Homo sapiens: one gene and its partners. The protein of the gene in region 2 purifies or fractionates together with the protein of the main gene of each other region. This does not show direct contact. Each region holds a gene or a part of one and is shown on either strand. Other genes may lie near its edges.

What was found.
Region 1: the proteins of VCPIP1 (region 2) and UBXN2A purify together in Homo sapiens (affinity purification with mass spectrometry; 2 studies listed by BioGRID and IntAct, with this or other methods). This does not show direct contact.
Region 3: the proteins of VCPIP1 (region 2) and NPLOC4 purify together in Homo sapiens (affinity purification with mass spectrometry; 2 studies listed by BioGRID and IntAct, with this or other methods). This does not show direct contact.
Region 4: the proteins of VCPIP1 (region 2) and FIGNL1 purify together in Homo sapiens (affinity purification with mass spectrometry; 2 studies listed by BioGRID and IntAct, with this or other methods). This does not show direct contact.

The regions. Positions count from the first base shown.
Region 1 is NC_000002.12:23,998,849-24,006,083, reverse strand, and holds the end of UBXN2A (UBX domain-containing protein 2A), read right to left. Parts: intron 6,430-7,235; coding exon of another isoform or gene 6,413-6,429; coding exon 6,217-6,412; 3' UTR 1,175-6,216; downstream 1-1,174. UniProt on the Homo sapiens protein: Acts to repress the ubiquitination and subsequent endoplasmic reticulum-associated degradation of CHRNA3 by the STUB1-VCP-UBXN2A complex in cortical neurons.
Region 2 is NC_000008.11:66,628,938-66,637,225, reverse strand, and holds part of VCPIP1 (deubiquitinating protein VCPIP1), read left to right. Parts: intron 1-1,853; coding exon 1,854-2,725; 3' UTR 2,726-8,288. UniProt on the Homo sapiens protein: Deubiquitinating enzyme involved in DNA repair and reassembly of the Golgi apparatus and the endoplasmic reticulum following mitosis. Necessary for VCP-mediated reassembly of Golgi stacks after mitosis.
Region 3 is NC_000017.11:81,626,166-81,634,453, reverse strand, and holds part of NPLOC4 (nuclear protein localization protein 4 homolog), read left to right. Parts: intron 1-4,648; coding exon 4,649-4,729; intron 4,730-8,288. UniProt on the Homo sapiens protein: The ternary complex containing UFD1, VCP and NPLOC4 binds ubiquitinated proteins and is necessary for the export of misfolded proteins from the ER to the cytoplasm, where they are degraded by the proteasome.
Region 4 is NC_000007.14:50,446,989-50,455,386, reverse strand, and holds the start of FIGNL1 (fidgetin-like protein 1), read left to right. Parts: upstream 1-5,036; 5' UTR 5,037-5,086; intron 5,087-5,663; 5' UTR 5,664-6,269; exon of another isoform or gene 6,270-7,097; 5' UTR 7,098-7,206; intron 7,207-7,331; exon of another isoform or gene 7,332-7,419; intron 7,420-8,089; 5' UTR 8,090-8,099; coding exon 8,100-8,398. UniProt on the Homo sapiens protein: Involved in DNA double-strand break (DBS) repair via homologous recombination (HR). Recruited at DSB sites independently of BRCA2, RAD51 and RAD51 paralogs in a H2AX-dependent manner. May regulate osteoblast proliferation and differentiation.

The DNA of each region.
Region 1 (7,235 bases), on a different chromosome or scaffold from region 2:
TTAGATTTCAATAAAGTAGGATTAAATAACAAAGGCAGCTGCCTTTTAATTAAAACAAGACTAAAAGCTGATATACTAAAAAATATCTGAAAGGATGCACATCAAAATGTTACTAGTAGTTTTTAATTTCTAATTTTTATTTTTTACTTTTTTCTTTTTCTTTTTTTCAAGACAGAATCTTGCTCTGTCGCTCAGGCTGGAGTGCAGCCACATGATCTCGGCTCACTGCAACCTCTGCCTCCTGGGTTCAAGCGATTCTCCTGCCTCAGCCTCCCGAGTAGCTGGGATTACAGGCGCGTGCCACCATGCCTGGCTAATTTTTGTATTTTTAATAGAGACGGGGTTTTACCATGTTGGCTAGGCTGGTCTGGAATTCCTGATCTTGTGATCAGCCCACCTCGGCCTCACAAACTGCTGGGATTACAGGCATGAGCCACTGCGCCTGGCTTTTTTTTTTTTCACTTTTTAAACTATTCACAGGTGTACTACCACTACTGATCAGCATTCGTTCTTGCTCCTTTTCCAATGGGCAACCTGGTAGTCCCCCGTTCCAGTGAGATCACCAAATTGATGCCAAACTTAGTGCAGACACCTGACCGACTGGCAGAGCACACTATACCCCAGAACTTCTGGGCTCAAGCGAGCCTCCTGCCTCAGTCTCCTGAATAGCTGGGACAACAGGCATGCACCACTAGGACCAGTAGTGGTTATATGTGAAAGGCAGAATAATAGGTGATTTAAGGATCATTTTAGCATATCTGCATATTATAGTTTTCTATAATGAATATAAATTATCTGTGCAAAAAATACATTAAAACAAATGACAAAGCCAAATACTGGTCTACTGAATAAGCCATTTCCATCTGAAGGTTTAGTGCAATGAGCAATTTTTTCATAAAATGGTTTGTACTTAGGAAAAGAACAAAGGAGTAAACCCTACTAAAGAGTCTTCATGCTAGTTCAGCTGATAACACAAAGAATAAATGAAAAATTAAACATATCATTGAGTTAGTATTCAAAAATAGCACATCTTTACATTTCTGAGTATTAAATGAAAGTAATGTTGGTTAAAGCAAAAGCACCTAATAAATGTTTGTTGATTATCAAACTGAATGACTTTGCCAAATAAAATGACAAGTGTATTTGCATATAACTATTTTATAACAAGGGTAAATGATTTCACAGATCCTTTTAATGAACAGTATTTCATTAACAGTTCTTCAACTGTCAGCAAAAGATTGCTCTCAAAATACTTTAAGGCACTGAAATAGATGCACACATATTATCAACATGCTGAAATGTCATGAAAAATTATACCGAGAGAAGTATATAAAATAAGATTATTTTTTAAACTGAAAAAAATGCATAGTAATTAACCAATAAACCACAATCTGTAACATTAGATATGTATTTCTTTTTTTCTTTTTTTTGAGACGGAGTCTCGCTCTGTTGCCCAGGCTGGAGTGCAGTGGCACGATCTCGGCTCACTGCAACCTCTGCCTCCGGGGCTCAGGTGATTCTCCTGCCTCAGCCTCCTGAGTAGCTGGGACTACAGGCGCACACCACTACACCCAGCTAATTTTTGTATTTTTAGTATAGACGGGGTTTCCCCATGTTGACCAGGATGGTCTCGATCTCTTGACCTCGTGATCCATCCACCTCAGCCTCCCAAAGTGCTGGGATTGCAGGCATGAGTCACCGTGCCTGGCCTAGATATGTATTTCTATATATCAGCCCTAACAATTATTTTCAAGAAACTGAAGACAGTTTTGAAACAATTGCTTAGGTCAAATTGTATGCCCCATCTAAGGTGATTATTTTCAAGTTTTCCTTCCCTTAGCAAATTGTTTGTTTTCCAAAGTCAACCTCTTTTGATAATTATACACATTTAACTAACAATTTTACAACTTTTAAATTCTCAGTTAAAAAGCTTTACTGGATGATTCTCATTGTAGAAAATCTTTGAGGATATTATTCGCATTAATGAACGTTTCACAGTTAGAATAATGAAGGTTATTGATGACAACAGGTCTTTCTCCATAGGACCCTTACTGGGATGTATTCTACAGGTACATACAAAAGAACCTCCCATGTATCTTCTGGTTAAATAATTATAAACCGGAAAATCTACCAAAGAGGCTTTTCTATAGGTACACAGGAAACATTCTCAATGAGAGACCCCTACATGGAGAATCATATGTTGACTATAATTATGCAAATAAAAATGCTACATGATAGGCCTATATGAAACATTTTCTTAGATTCCTGAACATGTATTAACTGTCATCCTGTTATTTTCTATATCAGAAAGATAAGCTCATTGATTTTATCATTGCCTCTTTTTTTTTTTTTTTTTTTTGGTAAGAACATTATTTTTGTTTCACTACAGAGAGGCTCTAACACTGCTGTGTAAACATTACCAACAATAATTATTTATTTTCTATTATGTACCTGTTCATTTCTAAGAGTAATGGACAAAAGAAAAGGCTCTCCTTTGTCCTCCCTCTCTTCCTAATTAAAAGAGCCTTCTGCCCCATGGAAGGCTGGGAGCTAGGAAAAGCAGCATTCTCACAATAGACTGCAATCAGAAGATAGATTTTATGTCAGGTCATCTAGTTACATAGATATTTCCCTGTTGTTATTCCTGAGTCCTTAGTAAAAACCTTAATTAAATGTTCCAGCCTTGTCTCGGCTGTGCTATAGGAGGTAAAGCACAAGTTTATGTCATGATTGGTTCAGTGACAAAAGGGAACAGACTCTTTCCAAGAGCAAACTGGGTGACAAGGATAAACTTAGTGGTCTAGCAGATGTGTTTCAGTGGAGTCTCCCACCGTCCATGGTGAAAGCATGCAGGTTTTATTTTCTCAGGGTAAAAGCTTAGGACAGAATTTCCTGAAGAAAGGTACTTCCACCACATACTTAAGAATCACGTGAGATTAAAAATGCAGAGATCTGAGACCCATCACAGATACAGTGAATCAGAATCTTTGTGGTAGGTGGCAGGAATGGCATTTTTGAAAAGCTGCCCCAAATGATTCTGAAACTAAGGCTTCAGAATCATTGTGAACCATCACTTTATATAGATTGGTTCTCAAAGTGTGCCTGAGGGATCCCTGGAGATTCCCAAGACCCATTCAGGGCACTGTGAAGTCAAAACGTTTTTCATAATCATACTAAGGCATTATTTGCTTCTTTTCATTCTTTCACCAGTATACAGAGGTGTTTTCCAGAGTCTACATGATATGTGACTGCACAACAGACTGAATGTAGAAGACATGAGAACCCATCTATCTTCTTTATGACAGAAAGTAATTCCCCCCAAAAAACCGGCCACTTTTCTCACTAAATCGTTTCATGTTTTATAAGTTATTATTGGCTGGGCACAGTGGCTCACGCCTATAATCCTAGCACTTTGGGAGGCCAAGGCGGGCGGATCACCTGAGGTTACGAGTTAGAGGCCAGCCAGGCCAACATGGCGAAACCCCGTCTCTACTAAAAATACAAAAATTAGCCAGGCGTGGTAGTGGGCGCCTATAATCCCAGCTACTCGGGAGGCTGTGGCAGAAGAATCGCTTGAACCCGGGGGGACAAGTTGCAGTGAGCCAAGATCGCGCCATTGCACTCTAGTCTGGGGGAAAGAGCAAAACTCTATCTCAAAAAAAAAAAAGTTATTATTATTACGGCAGGGTCTTACTCTGTTGCCTAAGCTAGAGTGCAGTGGCGCAATCTCGGCTCACTGCAACCTCTGCCTCCTGAGTTCAAGCAATTCTCCTCCCTCAGCCTCCCTAGTAGCTGAGATTACAGGCATGTGCCACCACACCAGGCTAATTTTTGTATTTTTAGTACAGACATGGTTTCACCACATTGACCAGGCTGGTCTCGAACTCCTGACCTCAGGTGATCTGCCCGCTTTAGTGTCCCAAAGTGCTGGGATTACAGGTGTGAGCTACTGCACTAATTTTTGTAATTTTTATAGATAGAGTTTTGCCTTGTTGCCCAGGCTGGTCTCAAACTCCTGGGCTCAAGTGATCCACCTGTCTTGGCCTCCCAAAGTGCTAGGATTACAGGCGTGAGACACCATGTCCAGCCAGAAGTTATTTTTAAATGAATAATTTTTTTTTTTTGAGAAAGAGTCTCGCTCCGTCACCAGGCTGGAGTGCAGGGGCGCAATCTCGGCTCACTGAAACCTCCACCTCCCGGGTTCAAGCCATTCTCCTCCCTCAGCCTCCCACGTAGCTGGGACTACAGGCGCATGCCACCACACCCAGCTAATTTTTTTTGTATTTTTAGTAGAGACGGGGATTCACCATGTTGGACAGGATGGTCTCAATCACTTGACCTTGTGATCCGCCTGCCTCAGCCTCCCAAAGTGCTGGGATTACAGGCGTAAGCCACCGTGCCTGGCCCATAAATAAATATTTTAAAAATTTAATATTTAATATAATAATATATATAGCTCACATAAACAAATGGTCTTGAGATAAAAATGTTTGAGAGTTGCTGTTTCATAGCAGGCATCTCGCACCCTATGAACATTACTGCTGCTATGGACCACTTAGTTCCTTGGCACACTCAATGCATGCTTCATTTTAAATCTGATTCAATAGATCATTTGCAAAAAAAAATGTTAAACTTATTTTCAGGTATGGGGATTTAATCTGACAGTGAAAAATTGAGGTCTAACTGGATTTAGTTAAAGTCTGAGATATAAAGCCTGTTTTTCTTCGTGATATCAAAATGAAATAATCTTTAAATGTATTCACAAGTTGACTCTGATGTATGAAACAGAAAACCAGCTGGGCACGGTGGTTCACACTTGTAATCCCAGCACTTCAGGAGGCCTAGGCAGGCAGATCCCCTGAGGTCGGGAGTTCGAGACCAGCCTGACCAACATGGTGAAATCCCGTGTCTACTAAAAATGCAAAATTAGCCAAGCATGGTGGCGCATGCCTGTAATCCCAGCTACTTGGGAGGCTGAGCAGGAGAATCTCTTGAACCCGGGAGGTGGAGGTTGTGGTGAGCTGAGATTGCGCCACTGCACTCCAGCCTGGGCAACAAGAGCGAAACTCCATCTCAAACAAACGAAAAAGAAACAGAAAACCATACTTTATATGATGCATTTAAAAAATACTAGTAATGTGACACACACCGGCATTATATTCTAAGTGAGTGGTGGCAAATGAATGGCTAATCCCAAATGTTAGCCAAAAACAAATCCATAATTTTTGAAAGAAAATAAAATGGAAAGGGAATAGGCTTTTTAGAAAGATAATTTTCTTTTATTACATTTTTATAAAGTGTAGAAATGTGAGTAGGCAGATTAATCTTGATACTATACTGAGCTACACAATTTTATTCTTTTATTTTTTAAATTAAAAAAATATATAGACAGGGGTCTCACTCTGTTGATCATTCTGGTTTTAAACTCCTGGCTTCAAGTGATCCTCCCATCTCAGCCTCCCAAAGTGCTGGGATTACAGGCATGAGCCATTGCACCCGGCCACAATTATTTATATTTATTTTACTTTATTTTATTTATTTTTGAGAGGGGGTCTTGCTCTGTCGCCAAGCTGGAGTACAGTTGCTCAATCTCAGCTCACTGCAACCTACACTTGCCAGGTTCAAGAGATTCTCCTGCCTCAGCCTCCCGAGTAGCTGGGACTACAGTTGCGCACCGCCACGCCCAGCTAATTTTTGTATTTTTACTAGAGATGGGGTTTCACCATGTTTGCCAGGATGGTCTCAATCTGTTGACCTCGTGATCTGCCTGTCTCGGCCTCCCGAAGTTCTGGGATTACAGGCATGAACCACTGTACCCGGTCGTATTAGCTATTTAAAAACTCAGACAGCTAACATTTAAATAAATCCCTGCTGTCTGGGAATGATGTCTGAATGAATATTGTGAATACATATGCTAATTTATACCATATTAAGATTCTAAACAATACAGCTATTTAATATATCTTGATAACTGGTATTTGAAAATAAGTCTATTTTTCTGGGTAGTCTTTTGGAGAAAGTGCACTGAATATAGTTTCCAGTCATATGCTACTTTCTTAACTTGTACTTATCTAAACATCTTCTCATCAGGAGAGAGTTCAATAGTACTCGAACCAAAAGTCTAGTGAGTCTGACTTCTCCAATCCCCAATTTTGGTTTGCATGTCCACTTACAACCATCATTTCTCTGCAAATTTTCCACTTAGTCTATCAAAAATCAGTGCTCTGAAAGTTCTCTAAAAGATGCAGTTTTTTGGAGTCTCTGAATGATGACAGCATTCTGTAAATCTGCTTCTTCCAGTGTGAGTGTCTCATCTAGCAACCTGAGGACAGGAAGAGCTGTTGCCAGGGAAAACGGAGGACTTCTTTGAGATCCTTGGTATTTTTCAATGAAGTCTTTGATATGGCTTACTCTGTAAAACAGCAAAAACTATTAATATAATTTTAGGAAAATTTGAATTACCTAATTTATAGTAACAACAACTGGTAAAAGTATCTGGATATGTTATTATTAGAGATAGCGTCTTGCTTTGTCACCCAGGATGCAGTGCAGTGGTGCCATCATAATAACTCCTGGGCTCAACTGATCCTCCTGCCTCAGCCTCCCAAAGTGCTGAGATCACAGGCATGAGCCACAACACCCAGACTCTGGATATGTTAATATATAGAATAACTGAATTTATGATATAACTGATTATTTGGGCTATCTTTTAAAGTTTGACTCCCAGAAATTTGATGACAATACTACTACTACTGTTAATTATCTTAGGTAAGATAATTAGTACTATGAATTACTACTGTTAATTATCTTAGGTAAGACAAAGGAATTATGGCTATGTTTTACAGAGGCTGTCACAATTGTATCATGATCGTCATGTAGCCATGGATTATAGAATGCATCCTCATTTCACAGATGCTAAAATGTGAAAAAATGTGCAACTCAGAATTAATGAAATATGCCTATCACTAAAGAAAGAATTCTCTCATTCAATCAATTCACTAAAATTCACTACGTGCCACTTTATTAAACCTGTAAGGGCTACCAAAAAAGTCTAAGACCCAGTCCTGTGTATTCATTTGGGTACCAAAAATTGGATAACTAAAGGTTAAAGCTTATGTCAAAGAACATAAATATAAAAAGCAAGAAAACAAAGGTTAAAAGAACTGGGGAAAGATTGCTGGAGGTGGAAGGATTGGAGTGTGGACTTAAAAGACAGGTCCAGCTGCTCGGGAGGC
Region 2 (8,288 bases):
GTGTATGCCATCACCCTCAGCTAACCTTTTGTTTTTTTTGTAGAGACCAGGGTCTTACCATGTTGCCCAGCTGGTATCAAACTCCTAGCCTTTGTTTGTTGGAAACAAACTCCAAGCGATCCTCCCGCCTCAGCCTCCCAATGTGCTGAGCCACCACGCCTGGCTGGAGTTTTTTAATAACAATATAAACGTGCAGAAACTATAGAAATGGGAAACATCACCTATCATTTAAAAATATTTGTCTTATACATACATGTTTTAGGCAAGATTGTAATCATAGTACTTATATTTGTTTCCTGCTGTTGCAGCATCATGCACATTTTACTGTATATATCAGGCATCACAGCTTCCTATCTAAATTTTTTTTTTTTGAGACGGAGTCTCACTCTGTTGCCCAGTCTGGAGTGCAGTGGCATGATCTGGGCTCACTGCAGCCTCCGCCTCTTGGGTTCAAGCATTATTTATCTGAATTTTTTTTTTTTTAGATGGAGTCTTGTTCTGTTGCCCAGGCTGGAGTGCAGTGGTGCAATCTTGTCTCAGCACAACCTCCACCTCCTGGGTTCAAGCAATTCTCCCTGCCTCAGCCTCCTGAGTAGCTGGGACTACAGGCGCGCACCACCATGCCTGGCTAATTTTTGTATTTTTAGTAGAGATGGGGTTTCACTCTGTTGGCCAGGCTGGTCTCAAACTCCTGACCTCATGATCTGCCCACCTTGGCCTCCCAAAGTGCTGGGATTACAGGTGTGAGCCACTGTGCCGGGCCTATTTATCTAAATTTTAATAACTGCATATACTTCCAACAGGTAGATAGGAAATAATTTACTTATTTCTTGTTGAAAATTTAGATTTTTTTCCATTGTTTCATTGTAAGTAATACTGTGATGAACATGTGTGGAACTATGATTCTTTCTAGGGATAGCCAAGGAAAAGCATCTCAGTAGCAATCTGGAAACACCTGCAAAACCTTTTTTTTTTTTTTTTTTTTTTTTGAGATGGAGTCTTGCTTTGTCACCCAGGTTGGAGTATAGTGGTATAGCGGCGCCATCTTGGCTCACTGCAACCTCCGCCTCCTGGGTTCAAGCAATTCTCCTGCCTCAGCCTCCCCAGTAGCTGGGACTACAGGCTCACACACCACCATGCCCAGCTAATTTTTGTATTTTTAGTAGAGACTGGGTTTCAACATTTTGGCCAGGCTGGTCTTGAACTCCTGACCTCAAGTGATCCACCTGTCTGCCTCCCAAAGTGCTGGGATTATATGCATGAGCCACTGCACCTGGCCTCAAGCTCCATTCTTTTTTTTTTTTTTTTTTTTGAGATAGAGTTTCACTCTTATTGTCCAGGCTGGAGTGCAGTGCCGCAATCTCAGCTCACTGCAACCTCTGCCTCCCAGGTTCAAGTGAGTCTCCTGCCTCAGCCTCCCAAGTAGCTGGGATTACAGGCGCCTGCTGCCATGCCCAGCTAATTTTGTGTATTCTCAGTAGAGTTGGGGTTTCACCACGTTGGCCAGGCTGGTCTCGAGCTCCTGACCTCAGGTGATCCACCTGCCTTAGCCTCCCAAAGTGCTGGGTTTACATGTGTGAGCCACTGTGTGACCTCAAGCCCCATTCTTAACTTTGCTGTTAGTTAAGATAGCAAAAAAATTTTTTTAAAAAAGATTCTCTGGGGAGAACTACTTTAGGGTCTATGGCGGTGGTTCTTTTTTGTAATACAATAAATCTGAATGAATTTTGTTTTGAAAGCTGTTATCTGTAAATTGTTATTTAAAATTCATTATTTTAACTATAATTGTCTTGACTACACTTTTATTAATACCTTAAGATTTTAATATGTTAAATATCTTTTCCCCTTTTTAGGTATGGCTGATGGCAAGCATTGTACTTTTCCACATCTGCCTGGCAAAACCTTTGTCTATAATGCTTCTGAAGATAGACTGGAATTGTGTGTGGATGCTGCAGGACATTTCCCCATTGGTCCTGATGTTGAAGATTTAGTTAAAGAGGCTGTAAGTCAGGTTCGAGCAGAGGCTACTACAAGAAGTAGGGAATCAAGTCCCTCACATGGGCTATTAAAACTAGGTAGTGGTGGAGTAGTGAAAAAGAAATCTGAGCAACTTCATAACGTAACTGCCTTTCAGGGAAAAGGGCATTCTTTAGGAACTGCATCTGGTAACCCACACCTTGATCCAAGAGCTAGGGAAACTTCAGTTGTAAGAAAGCATAATACAGGGACAGACTTTAGTAATAGTTCCACTAAAACAGAGCCTTCTGTATTCACAGCTTCTTCTAGTAATAGTGAGCTTATTCGAATAGCTCCTGGAGTAGTAACAATGAGAGACGGCAGGCAGCTTGATCCTGATTTGGTTGAGGCCCAGCGAAAAAAATTGCAGGAAATGGTTTCTTCTATTCAGGCTTCAATGGACAGGCACCTTCGGGATCAAAGTACAGAGCAGTCACCATCTGATCTTCCTCAAAGGAAAACAGAAGTTGTGAGTTCTTCTGCAAAGTCTGGGAGTCTTCAGACTGGTTTGCCTGAATCTTTTCCTTTAACTGGTGGTACTGAAAATTTGAATACAGAAACAACTGATGGCTGTGTAGCAGATGCACTGGGAGCAGCCTTTGCCACAAGGTCAAAAGCACAAAGGGGAAATTCCGTGGAGGAGCTTGAAGAGATGGATAGTCAAGATGCTGAGATGACTAACACAACTGAGCCAATGGATCACTCTTGATTTAATTAGAGGCTAATAAAGGCAGAATGTTTATTGTGAATATGTAATATTTGTTGGCTGGGCCACGTAACTTGATTAGTCATTAAAAATCTTGTACGTATATAATTCAAAGATTATATCTTGTTATTCAGTGCATGATAGCAAGTGTGTGATTGGCCATAGCTTTTAATATACTGCTGCCCAGGCTGGCTCTGAATTTCTATAAATTAGCTGTTAGATCTGCTGAGATGACTTTCTTCCATATATGTGGTTCATTGGAAGTTCTTTGTAATTTTAATTCCATGAAAGTCTTAATGTTTCCAACATGAAAATTCTCTTACTTAAATACGTTTGATTTCTGAAAAGCCTACAAATGGAGGGGAAATGAGATTGTGCTAATGTTGATGTCATCAAGGTAACCATCTCATATACTAGTGTCAAAAGGTTTATGTAAACTTGAATTTTATCTGAACTAAATTGTATCTTAAAATTCATACAATTATTTATTAGACAGTGGAATGCAAATGTTTCTATGAACGTAAACACATTCATAGAGATTTCTTGGCGAAAATATCTTGAGAATAGAATGTAACGATATAACATTTTGCTGATTTGTGCAAGATTGGGGAAAAATTTCTTCTAGATTGATGAGGTCAATGTGATTCAGTTGTGTTGCTGTCTGAGCCACAGCCAATTGTGTGTGCTCTATTAATATGTTACCATTATTTTTGATTCCTGGCTTGGTCAAGAACAACCTGATTTTTTTTTTTTTAATCTTGCAGAAAAGTTGATTGCAAAGTGTGGTAGAAAAAGAAATAATGGTAGCAGTAGAGAATTTATAAATAAGAGTTTATCTTTATGAATGAGTTAATTGTTCTACAATTTTGATCAGTGGTATTTAAGCCTGTATATGCTAAGTGTATTTATGCCCCTTTGAGCCAAAATTTTTTTTTTTTTTTCAGAATCCATAAGAGTTTATTTGTTGGCTTCACTTGGGTTTAGATGCAAATTTTACTGCATCACACCCTGATCAGCTGGGTATTTGCTTAGTGTATTCATCAAATCTTCAGTGCCAGTTTCCTTGAGAAGCAGCTTTCATGCTTATTCCTTAAAAACAACAGAAGAGTGTTTATCCTGAGATTGGTATTGCACTATTTTATTTTATTCTGCAAATCTGTATCCTGAAGTGTACATTTCAACCCATATTCTTCTCTGTTCACTGAAATTAAGTTGAATTTGAATGGCTGAAAGACAAAATATATGTTAATACAATCTCTTACCTAGAGCATTCAAAGCCTGGCTGTCTCTGTTTGCACATGTAACAGATGCAGAACTGTGTTTGTAATTCTAAGAAAATGTATGTCAGAAAGTATTTTATCAGATGTTTAAAAATCTCTGCCTGTTGATTCATAAGGGATATAGACAGTACTTTAACTTGTGTTTCCAGATAAGGCAGATTTTGGTCATCTTTCTGTGAAAGTATCTCTAACTGAATCCACTTCTTAAACAAACTACTCTATTTTAAATAAGGAAAGAATGGAGAATCTAGACATTTTACAGGTGTATCTGAGCAAAATATATATTTGGGTTAGTTTTTATCACATTATCACGTTTGTCTTTATATTTTATCTTCATCCTAAATTTTCTCCCTATCAAAACAGCAGGAAATTTTTAAACTTTTATATTGTACACTATTTTTGCATAAAATAAGAGCTGTAGCTACCAAATACTATTTACTACTTAGTAAAGGTGGCTTCTGTGTATTAAACTACGAATTACAAATATCACTTCACTAACCACTATAATTATTTTTGGCTTTTTCAGCCACTGGAACTTTTTTTGGGGGGATTTAAATACAGGAAAACTGTTTAAGCAAAAAATGCACTGCTTTCATGTAAAATGATATAATCTTCTTTAACAAATATTTTCTTCATTGATAACTGACAGATATCTCATAGCATTAACATAAAATACCAGAAACAAACTTTATCTCCCTATTCTTACATTTAGTGCAAATTGGAATGCGTATGTGAATGTTAGAAGATGGACTTAATCTCTGACAACTTTATTAATTTCTCTAGCTACAGCAATGCTATTTAAAAGCCAGTTAGGTATGAATAGTACAGTAATAGTTTGGGTTCTCCCTTGATAAATGAATAAAAGGCTCAATTCTGATAAGTGATCAAATTTCTTGAAATTCTTTCAAATCAGCTGAAAATTTGGTTGGGGTGAATTGATGGTTTTTGAGAAGTAGGCCAGGTATCCTCACAAAGAAGTTTTAGAATAGGGTTTCTTTTAAGTTTTTAAATATCATCCTTTGTCTTTCCATATGGTTTTCATAACCAAATACATGACTATAGCATGGTTATTTTTCTAGTACTGCCATTTGTGATATAGCCACATCTTGGCGTGCAAGCTAGACATCTCAGGTAAATTTGTTTTTTTTTTTTTTTTTAGCCCTAGAGGTAACATTATAACTAAAATGCATTCCTGCAATTCTGTTTGCAGTGCTTCACTAAACATTGAAATAAAGTTGTAAATTTTTTCTTCAGTAATCCATTTTATAGTTAATCATACCAAATTTAAGTTGATGACCTAAAGTCCAGGTAGTGTTGAAGATAGTATGTATCTAGAATACTGGTAATGAGAAATTGTTGTAAATTGAAGAAAACAAGATGCTGCCATATATTAAGATAGAATATAATTAACTCCATGAGAATGGTTACTCAGGAACTAGTTAAAGAGCAAACCCATTTCTCCCGCTTCACTCTGTTTCAGATATTTTTATTGGAAAATGTTAGGGTAGAGGCCTGAGAAAGTTAGCAAATGCTATTGACTGATACTGGCTCTGTGTCTTCCAGTGATTTTTAGTTTGGTTTTTACAGTCAAGCCTACTGCTTGCAATTAAGATATCAATCTGAAATGCATCTGTAATTCCTGGCCACAGGTCCTTATTGCCATTATTTTTAAGTATCTTCATTGGAGATGAACACTGACTTTTGCATATGGTCTCTTACCTCAGGGAAGATCACTTGCTAGCAACTCATACTACTAATGACAGGTTTTTGAGAATTGTACTGACATCACATGTTAGCTACTAAATGCAAAATGTATAAAAGTATTGTTTTATGTAGTTACCTACCAATACTATCTGCTACTGAATAACTCTCTAAATATGTAGACCTCACTAATAACTAACCTTTAGGTAAAAAATTTACTTCTGTCATTAATTACACTTCAACTGGTCAATATAGTGGCAGCATAAAGTGTTTATTTCAGAATATCAATACAGTTTTGTCTTCATTTTTCAACAGTAATTTCAATTGGTTCATACTTAAAATACTACACAGATTTTGAGTTTTATGGTTCTCAAAGCAAGGTTTCCATCTTAAGATTTTTATAAACACAAAGCCTTTGCAAAATTGGATTAAATTCCACCTATCTTAATGTGAATTAAAAACCACCATTTATAATAATAATAGCGCCATATTCTAAGTTGAGTAAATGCATCCTACCATTCAAGGTTATCATATAATTTAACAAAATTGTACAACCTTAAGGCTCTTCACAGTATAAATTAATTTTTCAAACCAGAGCTGTTCACATGAAAATATTCCTTAGTAGAATGTATATTTAAGAAATAAAACAACAAAGGGGAACTATATCACCCATGTAAGTTATAGAGTTAATTACAAGTTCTACCATTCTTGATAATTCTTTGAGATGCTAAGTGTTTCAGTTCATATTTAATGATACTTAAATCGTGGGAATTTTAATGTTTGTTCCAAAATAGCAGAAATTGTAAAAATTATGAATTATTGGAGAAAATGCCATTACTTGTATATCTGACATTTAATTTTTTAATTATGGAGACTACATGCTTTTGTAGTATAATATTAATGATTATTCTCTTGTAAAAGAAAAGGAAAAATTAGTAAAGAAAAAAGTTTTAGTTGATGTTACCTGCTTGTGAGTATCAATTACTTAGTTTTTAAATTTTTAAGGTATTGCCTACTTTTCTTTAGAATGCAGAAATCTCGTCCTGAGCCCTTATTATGCCTGTGGTAGAGCAATGCAAGACTGAAAAGGTTGCCAGTATTTTCAGGCTTATTTGACTAAGAATTAGTGCCAAGAACTGGAAAGTCTACTTTTTGGAGGGAAATGATACTTAGAATTTGTAAACATAAGCAGTAATAGTGTAAATATTTAGAAAAATAGCAAGTGCTTTAACTGCTCAATAAAATAGTATAGATGTTATTTCACCCTTAAGGCACTGGCTGTTGCCCATTATTTTCCGATTTCGTGATTACTGTATATATTACATTTGAGTAATGAATAATTGGTAATAGTGTATTATAGTGTTCTACAGCACACCTTACTGTACAGTATTTGAAGTTTTCTTTTATATCAATAATAAAACTATAAGTTAATACTGATTTTCCCCTGAAATTCTCCACATTAGCTTTTAAAGGTAATTTTATGTTCTTTAGTTTCCTGGAATTATAATGCATGAACATATAGTTCAGTTTTATAAAGAAATTCTTAAATAATAAAGTTTTCTTGTTGAACTTAAGCGGGTTATCGTACAGGAATAGTGATTTTTCCCCTTAATGTAGATTTCATTGCTAGATGAAATGGACCCAGTGAAAAAAGAGTGCGCAATTTAAAAAAAAACCAAAACGGTCTCACTCTGCTGCCCATGCTGGATTGCCGTGGCATGATCAGGGCTCACTGCAGCCTCAACCTCCTGGGCTCAAGTGATCCTCCCACCTCAGCCTCCTGAATAGCTGGGACTACAGGCATGTGCCACCACACCTGGCTAATTTTTGTATTTTTTGTAGAGATAGGGTTTTGCCATGTTGCCCAGGCCGGTCTTGAACCCCTGAGCTCAAGTGATCTGCCCTCCTCTGCCTCTTTAAGTGCTGGGATTACAGGCGTGAGCCACCGCACCCTGCCAGCAAAATTTCTTTAGACATATTACATAATTGGGCCATAATGCTTACTGAATATTTAAAAATGAAGGCAAATTCTAACAGAGAACTTGATTTTGTGGTGGTTTAAAAAAATACTGGTTAGTGATAAGGAAATGAAAGGAAATACAGATAATAGTACTAAATAACGTTTGTGTAGCTTAGCAGTCAACACGTTTACTTCCAAGTTTTATTGTATATGCTTAATATACATTTTATTAGATCATTTAACTCAATAATTTAGAGTATAGCCTTAGACACCAGACTGCCTAGGTCTGACTCCTGGTACGCTGCTTTCTGTGACCTCTCTGTGCATTCCTCTCTGCGAGGATGATGATCACATCTGCTCCCAGGGTGGCTGTCTTAAATGAGTTAACACGTATCTGATGATTAGAAGAGTGCCTGACACATAGTAAACACTCAAATATTTGCTATGTTATATGTTAATGTAATGTGGTAGAGTTCAGTTGCCATTAAGTGGGATAAATCCTCACAGGGCACACATTATTTAAATAATTTGTTACATTAAAACTTATTTTACTTGTACATAATTGACTAAAAAATGGGGGGTTGTACATTCAAACATTTATGACCATGTGCAACACTGAGAATCT
Region 3 (8,288 bases), on a different chromosome or scaffold from region 2:
TTTTTTCCCACTAGTGTATAAGGCTAGGCTCTCATTGACAGCATTGGATCTCGTTGAATGTCTCAGATTGTGAGGAATTAAAACACTCTTCTTTTGAAATTGATTTAAAAAGTTATTTTGAATTTAAGAAAGAGATCTTTTGAAAAGTTTCTGGGCTGGGCATGGTGGCTCACACCTGTAATCCCAGCACTTTGAGAGGCCGAGGCAGGTGAATAATGAGGTCAGGAGTTGAGACCAGCCTGGCCGACATGGTGAAACCACGTCTTTACTAAAAATACAAAAATTAGGGCGTGGTGGCTCACGTTTGTAATCCTAGCACTTTGGAAGGCCGAGGCAGGTGGATTGCCTGAGCTCAGGAGTTTGAGACCAGCCTGGGCAACACGGTGAAACCCCACGTCTACTAAAAAAAAAAAATACAAAAAATTAACCGGGCGTGGTGGCGTGCACCTGTAGTCCCAGCCACTCAGGAGGCTGAGGCAGAAAAGTTAGAACCCGGGAGGCGGAGATTGCAGTGAGCCGAGATCGCACCACTGCACTCCAGCCTGGGTGACAGAGTGAGACTCTTAAAAAAAAAAAAAAAATTAGCTGGGCGCGGTGGCGGGCGCCTATAATCCCAGCTACTTGGGAGGCTTGAGGCAAGAGAATTGCTTGAACTCGGCAGGCAAAGGTTGCAGTGAACCGAGGTCGCGCCATCGCACTCCCACTCTGGGTGACAGAGCAAGACTCTGTCTTGGGGGGAGAAAAGAGTTTCTGTGGATTTAACTGTATCTCACCAGTTCTTCAACTTCCCCAAGAAGCGTTCTAGTCTTATTTTCTTATAAATAGGGAAACTTAAGTTACCAAGAGGCTGTGTGTTCATGTTGTCAGGTCTGTCTCTTCCTGTGTATTTCATTTTGTAGTCTGTGTCAGAGGCTAGGCCAGAACTTTCCATCGTACAAATTATGTTTGTCTCTTGTTAAATACTGGAGTTGGCCTTGGAAACCTGGACTCCCATCTTCTGTGGTAGAGGATCAAGTAGGATGACTTCTTCACCTTAGAATTCTGCAGCCTGAACCATTTAGCTCTGTAAAGAATGGCGGTAACATGCTCTTGTTCCAGAGTCATCGTTTGAAGGAACATTCACATGTTCCCCTTCATTAGAACAGAGCTTTCCTTTTTAAGATAGCTAAGTGTTGGCAGACAGATTTTAGAAACAAATAAGTGGAAGTATTTACCTAATGCTATATATTGTGAAAACGTTTTTCTGGGGTATTGAATCTAGAATGAAGTATACTAGACGTTAGAAGTATAAAGAATTGTATTTCTTTTCTTTTTTTTTTTTTTTTTGAGACGGAGTCTTGCTCTGTCACCCAGGCTGGAGTGCAGTGGCGCGATCTGCTCACCACAAGCTCTGCCTCCTGGGTTCACGCCATTCTCCTACCTCAGCCTCCCAAGTAGCTGGGACTACAGGCGCCCTCCACCACGCCTGGCTAATGTTTTGTATTTTTAGTAGAGATGGGGTTTCACCGTGTTAGCCAGGATGGTCTCAATCTCCTGACTTAAAAGTTGAGAACATATTGGGTGGAGCCTTTTCTGCCAAGTGAAAGTTATGGGAAAATGCAGGACAGGGTTATCCTATTTTAGGAAAATCTAGATTAGGCTTAGTTACTTTACTAAAAGCGGACAAATCCCAGTAGACTGAGCCTTTATGGTGTTTTGTCCTGTATCAGTGGAAATCTTTTTTAGACAATGGCTTGTGACAGTTTTCATCTGCATAATGGTTGAAGAGGATGTTTAATGTAACACTCGTGGTAACCTCACAGAAAATAGTTATAGAATTTATGAAAAAGGAAATAAGGGAGGCCGGGTGTGGTGGTGCACACCTGTAATCCCAGCACTTTGGGAGGCCCAGGTGGGTGGATAACTTGAGGTCAGGAGTTCGAGACCAGCCTGGCCAACGTGGTGAAATCCCATCTCTACTAAAAATACTAAAAATTAGCCAGGCGTGGTGGCAGGCACTTGTAATCCCAGATACTCAGGAGGCTGAGACAGGAGAATCACTTGAACCGGGGAGGCAGAGGTTGCAGTGAGCCGAGATCACGCCATTGCACTCCAGCCTGGGCAACAAGAGCTGAAAAAAAAAAAAGAAATAAAAAAGGAAATAAGGGAATTGAAATGTTTCACTATAAAAAATCAGCTAGGCCAGGGTTGGTGGCTCATGCCTATAATCCCAGCACTTTAGGAGGCTGAGGCAGGTGGATCACCTGAGGTAGGCGTTTAAGACCAGATTGACTAACATGTTGAAACCCCGTCTCTACTAAAAATACAAAAATTAGCTGGGCTTGGTGGTGCACGCCTGTAATCCCAGCTGCTCAGGAGGCTGAGACAGGAGAATCGCCTGAACCTGGGAGGCGGAGGTTGCAGTGAGTGGAGGTTGCAGTGAGCCGAGATTGCGCCACTGCACTCCACCCTGGGCAACGGAAAAAGACTGTCTCAAAAAAAAGAAAATTAGCTGGGTATGGTGGTGGGCGCCTGTGATTCCAGCTACTCAGGAGGCTGAGGCAGGAGAATCACTTGAACTCAAGAGGCAGAGGTTGCAGTGAGCCAAGATTGCGCCATTGTACTCCAGCCTGGGCCACAAGATTGAAACTTCATCTCGGGGAAAAAAAAAATGAGCTAAATACAAGAGATGGTAATGCAGGAAATGAGAGAGAAAGAAGCTATAGAATGCACCATCAGTCTTTGCTGAGAGGAGAAGCTAGGACACTTATGCGCATGTTCCTGTCTGCCTTCCTTCCCGTCCCGCGGATGGTTGGAGCAGGTCTTTGTTTGCTGCAGAGCATGCCATGTCATCCTCCTTGTCTAAAGCAGGGGCCTGTGCTGTTGGCCAGGCATGATAACTCACCTTCACGATGGCTTTCATCAGCATAAACATCAAGTTGTCTTAGAAAGTAATGCCCTTTGTCCAGTAGTCTTCCAGATCTGCCAACCTTTTTAGGCTTGCCGTGGGGGAAAAAAAAAAAAAAAAAAAAAAAAAATATATATATATATATGTACACTTTAATATGCATATATGCACACACACGTTATTAAATTAGGATGGGGTCTCGCTGTGTTGGCCAGGCTGATCTCGAATTCCTAGGCTAAAGAGATCTTCCTGCCTTGGTCTCCTGAAGTGCACAGATTATAGGTGTGAGCCACTGTGCCCAGCTGAAAATATTTTTTCAAAACCCTACTAAATTTTACCATTAAAGACCTTTATTGCTTTTAATTTTAATTTCTTTTTTAAGTTTAAATTTTTACTTTTTTTTTGAGACGAAGTCTTGCTCTTCGTCACGCAATGGCACGATCTTGGCTCACTGCAACCTCTGCCTCCTGGGTTCAAGCGATTCTCCTGCCTCAGCCTCCCGGGTAGCTGGGATTACAGGTGCCCGCCACCACGCCCAGCTAATTTTTGTATTTTTAGTAGAGACGGGGTTTCACCATGTTGGCCAGGCTGGTCTCGAACTCCTGACCTCAGGTGATCTGCCCGCATTGGCCTCCCAAAGTGCTGGGATTACAGGCAGGAGCCACTGTGCCCAGCCTAATCTCTTTTTTTGAGACAGGGTCTCACTTTGTCACCAATGCTGGAGTGCAGTGGCACCATCTTGGCTCACTGTAGCCTCGACCTCCCTGGTTTAAGTGATCCTCGTGCCTCAGCTCCCCAAGTAGCTGAGACCATAGGCGTACGCCACCATGCCTGGCTAACTTGTATTTTTAGTAGAGATGGGGTTTCCCCATGTTGCCCACTGGTCTTGAACTTCTGAGCTCAAGTGATCCACCGCCTTGGCCTCCCAAAGTGCTACAATTACAGACGTGAGCCACTGTGTCTGGCCATTTTTAAACGTTTTTTAGGGAAAGTAAGTAATAGCTGGCGTTGTGGCTCACACCTGTAATCCCAGCACAGTGGCAGGATCACTTGAGCCCCGGAGCTCGAGATCAGCCTGGGAAATATGACACTCCGTCACTACAAAAAAAAAAATTAACCTGGTGTGGTGGTGCAAGCCTGTGGTTCCAGCTCTCGGGAGGCTGAGGTCAGAGGATCACTTGAACCTTGGATGTCAAGGCTGCAGTAAGCTGTGATTTTGCCACTGCACTCCAGCCTGGGTGACAGCAAGACCCTGTCTCAAAAAAGCAAAAAAAAAGTAACAATTAGAAAATTTCCTGTGATTCTTTTAAATTGTAGGACTCTTGAAGACTGTCTAATGTTTGTATATAGATCCTGGAACAAAGTAACATCTTTTTTTTTTTTTTTTCCCCAAAGTAACATCTTTTTTAAAGAACACAGTTCATTCATGGTTCATGGTGGGTTTTTCTCTGTTTTAAGTCTGAAGAGACAAAAAGTGTTTTACATATACTCTATAAATAGTGATTAGGAATTAAAGTTGTTTTCTGAGTGAAACTAAGAGTTGAGAGGACAGTACTCTTAAAATATCTCCCCATATGTTGATGAATCTCACCCCTCGGCATCATATTCTAGAAGGATTGAGCTGGGTATTGAAAGGTGAAGAGTGAGGTTTGGCTTTAATTTTCAGTGACCCAGATGCTAAAAGACCACAGATGGAAGCCGTAGTATTAGATCAGGACCTCACTAGGCTGTGCAGTAACCATCATGTTTTGTTTGCAACAGATAATTCGTGTCCAGTCCCCGGATGGAGTGAAGCGGATCACAGCAACAAAGAGAGAAACAGCAGCAACATTTTTGAAAAAGGTATCTGTGGCCTGGGTATTGACCCTCAGGATATTTTTCATCCTCTACTCTTACTGCCATCGATACCTTTTCTCTTTTCCTCGTTTTCTTATTTTCCCTATTCCCAAATTGCCTCTTGCATTGCCTTTCTCTATCACAGTTGGGTTGGATTGCTATAGGATGAGATGTTTGTCACAGCTGATCACTGCTCAAAATTATAGGACCAAGAGCCCAAAGGTAAGTGTAAAAATATTTCACGGCTGGGCGTGGTGGCTCACACCTGTAATCCCAGCACTTCGGGAGACCAAGGCGGGTGGATCACGAAGTGAGGAGTTCAAGACCAGCCTGGCCAAGATGGTGAAACCCCGTCTACTAAAAATACAAAAATTAGTCGGGCGTGGTGGTAGGTGCCTGTAATCCCAGCTACTTGGGAAGCTGAGGCAAGAGAATTGCTTGACTCAGAAGGCAGAGTTTACAGTGAGTCGAGGTGGTGCCACTGCACTCCAACCTGGGCAACAGAGTGAGACTCCATCTCAAAAAAAAAAAAAAAAAAGTATTTCATAAGAGTGGCCAGGCGCAGTGGCTGACGCCTGTAATCGCAGCACTTTGGGAGGCCGAGGCGGGCGGATCACAAGGTCAGGAGATTGAGACCATCCTGGCTAACATGGTGAAACCCTATCTCTAGTAAAAATACAAAAAATTAGCCGGGTGTGGTGGCGGGCACCTGTAGTCCCAGCTGCTGGTGAGGCTGAGGCAGGAGAATGATGTGAACCCAGGAGGCGGAGCTTGCAGTGAGCTGAGATCGCGCCACTGCACTCCAGCCTGGGCGACAGAGTGAGACTGTCTCAAAAAAAAAAAAAAGTATGAATTGTAGATATGACTACAGTTGACTCAAAGAATCATCCCTGGCTCCTCCCTGGTCTCCTGACCTGCATTGTGTCCAGGATTCCCATGACAGTTTTTCTTTTTTTAACCAATCACAAAATATTTCATTTACTGTGATAGTTGCATATTATGTACTTCTTAGCTTATCTTCACAGTTTCTTCCTTATTTACTTTTCCCATGGATTCCCCCAGACTATTTCTGTCTGGTGTTGTTTCTCTTCAGACTGAAAAACATCCATTAGCCTTTGTTGTAGGTAGGTTTGTTGGTCACAGACCTTTGGGTTTTTTTGACCTGAAAATGTTTTCGTTTTGCCCTGTGTTTATATGAGGGTTATTTTCTTTTTTTTTGAGATGGCATCTCACTCTGTTGCCCAGGCTGGAGTGCAGTGGCATGATCTCGGCTCACTGCAACCTCTGCCTCCTGGGTTCAAGCAATCCTCTGCCTAAGCCTCTCGAGTAGCTAGGATTACAGGCACCCGCCACCATACCTGACTAATTTTTTGTATTTTTAGTAGAGACGGGGTTTCACTATCTTCACCATGCTGGTCTTGAACTCCCGACCTCGTGATCCACCCGCTTCAGTGTGAGCCACCGTGCCCAGCCATGAAGGATATATTTTCTTTTTCTTTTTTTTTTCTTTTTTTTTTTATGAGAGGGAGTCTCGCTCTGTCTCCAAGGCTGGAATGCAGTGGCATGATCTTGGCTCACTGCAAGCTCCGCCTCCCGGGTTCACGCCACTCTCCTGCCTCAGCCTCCCGAGTAGCTGGACTACAGGCGCCCACCACCATGCCTGGCTAATTTTTTGTATTTTTAGTAGAGACGGGATTTCACCATGTTAGCCAGGATGGTCTTCATCTCCTGACCTCGTGATCTGCCCGCCTTGGCCTCCCAAGGATATTTTCATTCAATACAAATTTCTTTTTTTGAGATGGAGTCTTTTTCTGTCGCCCAGGCTGGAATGTGGTGGCGTGATCTCGGCTCAGTGCAACCTCCGCCTCCTGGGTTCCAGCAGTTCTCCTGCCTCAGCCTCCCAAGTAGCTGGGATTACAGGTGTGCACCACAATACCTGGCTAATTTTTGTTTTTGTTTTTTGAGACAGAGTTTCGCTCTTGTTGCCCAGGCTGGAGTGTGATGGCATGATCTTGGCTCATTGCAGCCTCTGCCTCCTGTGTTCAAGCAATTCTCCTGCCTCAGCCTCCCGGGTTCAAGCAATTCTGCCTCAGCCTTCCGAGTAGCTGGGATTACAGGCATACGCCACCAAGTCCGGCTAAGTTTGTCTTTTTAATAGAGATGGAGTTTCACCATGTTGGTCAGGCTGGTCTCGAACTCCTGACCTCAGGTGATCCACCCGCCTTGGCCTCCCAAAGTGCTGGGGTTACAGGCGTGAGCCACTGCACCTGGCCTCAAAACAGATTTCTGAGTTGACAGTTCATTTTTGTTCCCCACCATGCATCAATTTTTTTTTTTTTTTGAGACGGAGTCTTTCTGTTGCCCAGGCTGGAATGCAGTGGCGCGATCTCGGCTCACTGCAAGCTCTGCCTCCCAGGTTCATGCCATTTCCCTGCCTCAGCCTCCCGAGTAGCTGGGACTACAGGCACCCGCCACCATGCCCGGCTAATGTTTTTTGTGTTTTTAGTAGAGATGGGGTTTCACTGTGTTAGTGAGGATGGTCTCGATCTCCTGACCTCATGATCCGCCTGCCTCGGCCTCCCAATGTGCCGGGATTACAAGAGTGAGCCACCACACCTGGCCCTTTTTCTTTTTTTTTTTTGAGACGAAGTCTCATTGTGTCGCCCAAGCTGGAGTGCAGCGGCACAATCTTGCCTCACTGCAACCTCCGCCTCCCGGGTTCAAGTGATTCTGTTGCCTCAGCCTCCCGAGTAGCTGGGACTACAGGCTCGCACCACCATGCCCAGCTGATTTTTGTATTTTTAGTAGAGACGAGGTTTCACTATGTTGGCCAGTCTGGTCTCGAATTCCTGATCTCAGGTGATCCGCCCGCCTCAGCCTCCCAAAGTGCTGGGATTACAGGTATGATCCACCCTCACCCAGTCCATTTTAAAATTATTATTATTATTATTTTTGCCTAGGTTGGAGTGCACTGGCAAAGTCACAGCTCACTGCAGCCTTGACTTCCCGGGCTCAAACGATCCTCCCACGTGAGCTTCCTAGCTAATTTCTTAATTTTTTGGTAGAGATGGGGTTTCACCATGTTGTCTAGGCTGGTCTTGATTTCCTCAAGTGATCCTCCCCACTCTGTCTCCTGGATGCTGGGATTCCAGGCGGGAGCCGCGGTGCCTGGTCCTGTTGAGCATTTGAAGCTGTCGTTCCACCGTCTTCTTGGTCTTCTCGTCTTCGTTGACCTCTGGCTTTCAGTAGGGTGACTCTGGTGTGCCTTGCAGTGGTGTTCTTTGTATCTTAACTTGAGAGAGTTTGCTGAACTTCCTGGAGTTGCTATTTGATGTTTTTCATTAAATTTTGGGGTTTTCCCCACTCTTAAGTATTTTTCTGTTCTATTTTCATTCTTTTCTTTTTTTTTTTTCTTGAGATGGAGTCTCGCTCTGTTGCCCAGGCTGGAGTGCAGTGGCGCGATCTTGGCTGACTGCAACCTCCGCCTCCGGGGTTCAAGCGGTTTTCCTGGCTCAGCCTCCCGAGTAACTGAGATTACAGGCACGTGCCAGCTCACCTGGCTAAT
Region 4 (8,398 bases), on a different chromosome or scaffold from region 2:
ATTCTTCAGCTTCCTTGTATATCTGAGATTCCAATGTCCTGTGAAAATAAGAGAATTTGGCTACTTTATGAAACAGCAAGGTTAAGCAGCCTAAAAACAGTAGAAAAAAACACCAACAAGGTGGGTTATTTTTTCCTTCCCAAACTCTAAGCAAGGAAACCTAAGAGGAAGAACTGGCCAGCCCAGCCATAATAACACCTGGCACCTGGGCAGTGCTTACCGTGGGCGAGGCTCCGGTCTAAATGATCTTCAGACCTCAGCTGGGTTGATTCTGAACAATTCTCAGTAGTGGCTCCTGAGCAGTGGAGCTAGGACTTGAACCCTGGAAAGCTGACTCCATAGCCCCTGCTCTTAATCACTCCACCCCTGCCGCAGTGCTGTAAGAATGCAGGGCATTCGTTTCCTGTGGCTGCTGGAACAATGGACGGCAGTCTCAGTGTCTTCAAATAACATAAACGTGTTCTCTCACAGTTCTGGAGGCAGAAACTGAAATCGAGGTGTTGGCAGGGCCATGCTGTCTACAAAGTCCAGCTGTTGGTAACCCAGACATTCCTTGGCTTGTGACAGCATCACTCCAATCTCTGCCCCCATCTTCACATGGCCTTCTTCCCTCTGTGACTCTTTTCCTTTTCTTTATAAGGACACCAATCAATCAGATGAGGGCCCACCCTAATCCAGAAGGACCTCATCTTAACTGGATTATGGCTGTAACAACCCTCTTTCCAAATAAGGCCACATTCACAGGTGCCAGGGGTTAGGGCTTCAACATATCTGTTTGGGGGATGCAATTCAACCCCTTACATACTGTACCAAACTGGAGGCACCTAGAAGTGTTGACTCCAATTGGTAGCGCAGTCCTTGAGGAAAATGACGACCCAAGCAAATGTTTCCTTCAATCTCTGCTCTACCCCGTTTCAGGTGCTATAGAAAAATTACGGGAGGGCATTGTTTTAGAGTGAGCTCCTGCACTAGGTCCCAACAGACCAAACTAAAGTGGAGTCACTCATGCTAAGTGCCATTTAACCAAGCTGAAACTTTAAGAAAGCTGGTGGTCCCCAAATAGACCAGTTTTTCTTGAAAACAAGAGTCACAGCAACCCATCAGAAAGAGTTCAGTCTGCCTGAGTCAGAGTAATAAGGAAGTCCCATTTGCTTTAACCATGACGAGAAAAGTAGTCTGAATTAAGCTGACACTAACCAATCAACCTTTAAAATAATACTGTTTCCTTGTTCCCACCTTACAAAACCACTGTTCTGCCATTCCCCAGTGGGAACTCTAATTCTATTTTATAGAATGGAGGCTACTGGATTCATGAATCATGAATAAAAGCCAATTTGATCTGTAAATAATTTTGTCTTTTGACACCAGGAGAACACCACCTCCCCCCTCACCAGCTGTGTTTATGACAATGATGCCAGAGGTAGCCTCTTCACATCCCTTTATGATTCATTCAGTATGGCCAATGAAAATCTTTTACTAAAATTGTGCACTTGCTTCACCCTGGGCTCACACATCTTACTCCTCTGCTGGAGGGCTAGAACACCATCCCCTCAATCCTGGTACTTTTTTCTTCCTTACCACTGAGTCAGGGAGCTGAGAGGTTTGGAAGTCAGTGGGAATCCACACAGAGAAAGAACTGGATTTAGATTGGGCTGTTTTCCCTCTGAGCTTTGTCCTGTTGGCTTCCCTATCTCCTCAACACCACCTGCCTCCCGCACCCACCGACACACACATCTCCAGAATGTAACTCTCCTGGCTGACAGGGAAGCACATTATTTAGGGCCGTATTATCCCCTCTGCTCAAAAACAAATGAGCTCACCGAAGTGTACACTTGCATTTATCTGAGACCATGTTTATAAAATTCATGAATATGGAAATGGGCAGCCATCTCCCAGAATCCCTCACACCAAGAGAACTGGCACTGTCTGCTGTAGGTGAAAACCTCTTCCCTTGAAGGCTCAACAACTTCTACCCAGAAGAAGAAAAGAACAGCATATTCTTTCTCATACACACACACAAACACACACACACACACACACGCACACAGTATATACCACCAGTCTGTGGTCTTGGAAGCAAAGTTTAATAATTGAATAGCTCAAGCACTAAACTCTTACATATTATTAAGATACTATCCTAATATGTCTCATTTGTCAAAGATGGAAAAGTTTTGATATGACATAAGGGTTTCAATCCCAATAGGAATATTAATGGTAACAATAAAAATAACATAGCAACACGGTTTCTGTTGAATGCCTGCCACATGCCAGCAACTGCTTTGATAATTAAAGAATTATATCTTATGTTGATTATAATCCTTATAATGGCTTCCTGGGTAAGAAAGGTTTATTACTGTTTTACATTTGAGGAGGAGACTAGGGTTCAGAGAGGGTGCAGAAGTGAGTTACACTTTTGCCAACCAGGCCAGAAGATGAAAGCCGCTGGATTGGGAAATGCTTTTGTATCAAAAGCACAAAATGAAGTGGCTAGTGTTACTTGTTGGAAAAAAATTAACTTTGGCAAGCATAAATATAATTCAGTATTTGAGCAATACTTTTAGGAGGGTAACAGAGTGGTTTATGTGAATTCTCCAAAATGCCATCATGAAAATTTTGATGATGAAAATCACCTAAAATTGCTAATTACCTGTCTTAGCCTGTCTAGGGCTACAAAGTACCATATGCTGAGTGGCTCATAAACAATAGAAATTTATTTCTCACAGTGGAGGCTGGAAGTCAGAGTGCCAGAATGGTCGAGTTCTGGTGAGGGCTCTTCCAGGTTGCTGTCAACTCTTTGCATCCTTAGGTGGTGGCAAGAGGGCTAGAAAGTTCTTTGGAGTCTCTTTTATTGTATTTTATTTTTTGGAGACAGTCTCACTCCGTCCCCCAGGCTGGAGTGCAGTGGCGCGATCTCAGTTCACTGCAACCTCCACCTCCTGGGTTCAAGCAATTCTCAGGCCTCAGCCTCCTAAGTAGCTGGGATTACAGGTGCCCACCACAACACCTGGCTAATTTTTGTATTTTTAGTAGAGACAGGGTTTTGCCATGTTGGCCAGGCTGGTCTCGAACTCCTGACCCCAGGCGATCCACCTGCCTCGGCCTCCCAAAGTGCTGGGATTACAGGCATGAGACACTGCACCCAGCCTCTGGAGTCTCTTTTATAAGGATACTTACTATTCTCATCCATGAAGTCTCCACTCTCATGACCTAATCACCTCACAAAGGCCCCGCCCCTTAAAACCATCACATTGGGCTTAGGATTTCAACATACAAATTTTGGGGGGACATAAACTTTCCATCCCTAACATTACCCAAATAGTATCTATATAGTCATTTCTAAATATACACGTATTTAGAAATTTCTAAATAGCCAGTAAACATACAACTGACTTGGCCTTGATATAACTGTTTTCATTTTCTTTTATTTTCATTCTACATGACATATTTTGGGTAATTATAAAATAATTAAAATTAGTTGATAAAGTATGGAATTAGAATAAAATAATTTTCTATTACTATCTAAGCCATGAAATGAATTAGGAGATGCTGTTTTCAGTGAAACGTCTTCTAGTTTTTAAAGTGCATTGTCCAATTCCTTTTTATTTTGTGAAGATTTTAAAAACTTAAAAAAAGTCTTCAAATTGTTTGTGCCTTGCATTTCTTTAAATCTTATGTTTAAACATCATGTGCTGCTAGTTGCTAGTCATTTTCTCTATCCCCTGCCCCAGACCCTCTCTTTCTCAGGAAAGGATATCCAGGGATCCGGGTCCCAGTTAGTCAAGGAGATATAAGAGGAAGGCTATGAGGCTTTCTGGGAAACATTTTCTTTTTCCAAGAGAGAAGTGTTCAGAGGGAAAAGGTCCTTTCTCAGTTTGGCTCCCTCTTTGTGTTTTAGATCTGGTCATGTGAGGCTGCCTGGCTTGGATTGTGAGGGCATCTCTCGACAATGAAGTGACAAGCCTGGGGAGGAAAATCCACAGGCGAGAAGGTGGCAGAATGGAGAGATGGTCCTTCATGACTTCTTTGAGTCACCAGGTCCAGATTTCCCGCCAACCTCCAGTCTTCTTGTTATGTGATCTGATATCATTATTTACTGCAGAGGCCACTGAGTGGATGCTCTTACTTGTGTCTGAAAATCCAATTCACTAAATTAATCAAAATACGGCACTCTTCTTTTGAAACCTTGCTCCAGAACAAAGTGGAAGGTAATGATGGGGTGCTTTTCAAAGTTCCAGGGAGGTGTCCCTACACAGCAGACAGCTGTCCAAAGGAATGTAGATGTTGGCTGCGGGGAGATCTGAGTTGCCAGACTCAGTCAGAACAGGTGTCCTCTCCCTTATTTTATCTTAAACATGCATGTCATTTTTGCATGCTACTCTATGCGGTTCTTTCAGCCAGGGAACATTGCTGAGCACCCGCTCACGTGCTGTATGGAGCGCAGACTGCAGGGTGCGAGGGGCGGAGGTGATGTGCTAGGCCTGAATTCAAGAGGGGGCGCAGCCACAGGCCCCGCGATGCCGGGGTGGCCTCTTGTAACGACGTTTTAACCGCTGACCTAAGTGGATCCGCTCCTCTCCCGCCGCCCGCTCCCTGCCTGCAGCACAGGATGGCGGCTGGCTTTCCCGAGTGGGCGCAGGTGAGCCACGCTTGCTCTCCCGGGTGGGCGCAGGTGAGCCATTGTTTGCTCTCCCGGGTGGGCGCAGGAGAGCCACGCTTTGCTCTCCCAGGTGAGCCGCCGCTCGCTGTCCCGGTGAGGGGAAGTGAGCCACGCTCTATGGGAATCCTTCGAATCTTCATTCAATTTCCATCGCCTCCTTGTATTTATTTGGGAGTACTTTTAAAAATGAAGCCTATGCACAATGATGTAATAAGCGTTTATAGAACACCACTGGTCGGAGCTAGGGCCTAGGTGGCGGTGCCCGGGCCCAGGTGCCGCGCCCACGCCCCGCGCGCCGAACGCACGCACGCACGCACTCACGCACTCACGCACGCACGTACGGCGCGAGTCCGAGGGCGACAGCAGCGCGCAGGCGCACGTCAGTCCCCGCGCTTTTCGGAGGCTGCCAGCGTCCCACACCAGCCGCAGGTAGGATGCGGTGACGGGAGGCGGGGCAGGGGCGCTGCTGACCCCTGTGGAGCATCAGGGTTGGGGCGTAGGGGAGAGGCGGGCGTGTGCCTCTGGAATGCTGGGGGTCGCGGGGCGGTGACTTCGCGGGAGGCCGTGGGAGGCGGGAGCCAGGCAGTGGCTGTGCCCTTTTGCTTCTGTCTTAGCGGGAGGGTGGCTGACCCGCTAGCCCAGAACCAGACTCATCCAGGATTAGGAAGCTGGGGCCCGGCGTGGACGGCAGGCTCGGGGCCAGGTCTGCGGGCGGCTTCCTTTGGCAGAGCCTGTCCGGGGGCGGGGCCGCTTACCGCAGGCATTTACTGGGCCCAGCGGGGCTCTGGGCGCCCACAGCGGGGGTCAGTCAGTTCCCCTGTGACCCAGGCAAGCTCTTAATCTCTGTGATGAGAAAGAAGGGCTCATACCTTTCAGGGGTCATCGTGAGGAATCAGAAGAAGCAGTATTTTATAGAGTATTTTCTAAGTGCTGAGTCCTCTGTCTAGTGCTTTGCAGAATTAAAATACCTTGTCAGCTCAGTGATGTTGCTGCGCTTCTTTTATAGGTGAAAACCGGCAGAAAGACATTAAGAGATTTTCCTGCAGTCACTGCTGGCAGATGATAGAGCCAGGATTTGAAAGCAGGCAGCCTGGCTCCAGACCCTGTGCTCTTAACTCCCGTTTTGCATCAAGAACAGAATCCTATGAAAGGCTTGCACAGTGCTTGGTACTGAGTAGGCACTCCGTCAGTATTTTAGTAGCTATTATTCCAAAGGACACTGTATTCTAGGTACTAAGACAATGTGAATGGAATGGAAAACAATTCCTCCCTGCAGAAGCCAACTGTCTAGGAAGACAGATAATGACATTATTAAAATAATCAGAACATTGGCAAAATAAAGAAGATTGAAATGCAGTTCATATGACAGTGCTAATTAATCATACTTTTTAGATCTAGGAAAGGCCATAAAGGTTAAATTGACTTGGAAATGGTAAACAAGACAATGGTTGTGTCACTGATCGGTGATGGCCAGTTTTTGGTTATCCTTATTTGCCATTTAAATGATTGAATTGAAAGGAAGAAGTAAGACTTGGAAGATGAATATTGAAGGAAAGGTGAAGATGGAAAAGAGAAGGGGGTTTATTCTGAGAACAGTGACTAGAACTCTGAGGTATGGTAGAAATTTCAGGATAACAGATGATAAAGGGGAATGAAGCCATGGAGAGGAAGAGAATGATAATATTAATTGTGAAAGTTTGTGTCAAGTGTTTTCTGAGTCACCTTTCTTTCAGTTTCTCATTTCTAGTATTGTATAAATGAGTTTAACATCAAAATGGTATAGTGAAAAAAAGGATGAACTGCTTGACAGAAGAGGTCAGATCTAGTTTTGACTCTAGCTTATTTAGCTTTACAGCTTTAAATAAATTACAGTGTCTTTAAAGCTCTGGATCTTAAGTTTTCTAATTGTTTTTTAAACAAAGATTTGTGAACACCTACTTACAATGTGACAAATGTCTTTGTAAGGCATTATGGGAGATAAAAGCTGCATTAAACCTGGCTGTTGTACTTACAAGTAATTTGGAAGGCAAAATTTCAAATACTTGAACCTAAAGTAGGGTTTCTTGGTTTTCATTTAATTGAAATACTGTTAGGAAACAAAAATTTTTCATAAATTTTTCTTGTGGATATGTAAGTAAATTCTATATATCTAGCAATATGATACATCTATAGTTCTGTTTAAAGGTAACAATGTGAGGAAGCTTATGCGAATAACTTGACAGAAGAAATCTAAAGTAAAAGCATTTTCCTAGTAGGCTAGCTTGTTCTCTTATTTCATTTATTGTAACAGTTTCACTTTTTAATAATTATGTGAAATTAGGAAACAGATATTCTAGGGCATTCTGTTTAGGGTGATGAACTTATTCATGAATGTTATTAAAACCATTTAAATATGCCATAGTTTAAATTTGTGATCCATGCTGTTCAATCTGTGACCTAGGATAGCAGCATCAAGGAGCATTGTGTACATGCAGAAGTGCACAGTACCTGGAGTGAAACTGCTTGTGTTCGATTTCTGATACCATTCATAACTGGCTGTGTGATCTCAAGTAAGTTCTTTAAGTCTCTCAGCCTCGGTTTGTACATTTGTGTGATAAGGATAATGATAGTTTTCAGATTATTTTCATAGTCATTGCTTGATTTGATTCTTCCAATGGTTCCTCTCACTTTGCAGATAAGAAAACTGAAGAACCAGCTGGGCGCGGTAGCTCACGCCTGTAATCCCAGCACTTTGGGAGGCTGAGGCGGGTGGATTACCTGAGGTCAGGAGTTCAAGACCAGCCTGACTAACATGGCGAAACCCCATCTCTACTAAAAATATAAAAATTATCCAGGGGTGGTGGCAGGTGCCTGTAATCCCAGCTACTTGGGAAGCTGGGGCAGGAGAAGCACTTGAACCCGCGAGGTGGAGGTTGCAGTGAGCTGAGAGCGCCACTGCCCTCCAGCAGCCTGGGTGACAGAGCGAGACACTGTCTCAAAAAAAAATAATAATAAAATAAAAATAAACCATCAGTGATAGTAAAAAGCTCACTTAAGCTCATTCACCTAGTTTTATAGATCAGACTTAAACCTCTTGTTTATTTTGTTTTGCTTTATGTATCTATAGTTCCATTGTTTTTAAAATTTAAAATTAATTTTAAACCTTATGAATGCTTTCCCTACAGATAAAATTATGTAACTAGAACAATTTAACTCATATAAATTATTATTTAATCAAGTCCTTAATTTTGAAGACTTCATATTGATATGTCTTGAATACTTGAAATCTATAGTTAACTAGATATTTCTCTTATAACCTGTCCTTATAAATCTACATTATAAATAAAAAGTCCAGTGTCCCTTCCTTCAGATTAGCAGAAGTTTCAAAATTACATTTAAAGTATTTTCTTTGTTTTCCTTCATACTGATTTTCATTTTTATTGTTTGTTATAGAACCTCTAAAATGCAGACCTCCAGCTCTAGATCTGTGCACCTGAGTGAATGGCAGAAGAATTACTTCGCAATTACATCTGGCATATGTACCGGACCGAAGGCAGATGCATACCGTGCACAGATATTACGCATTCAGTATGCATGGGCAAACTCTGAGATTTCCCAGGTCTGTGCTACCAAACTGTTCAAAAAATATGCAGAGAAATATTCTGCAATTATTGATTCTGACAATGTTGAATCTGGGTTGAATAATTATGCAGAAAACATTTTAACTTTGGCAGGATCTCAACAAACAGATAGTGACAAGTG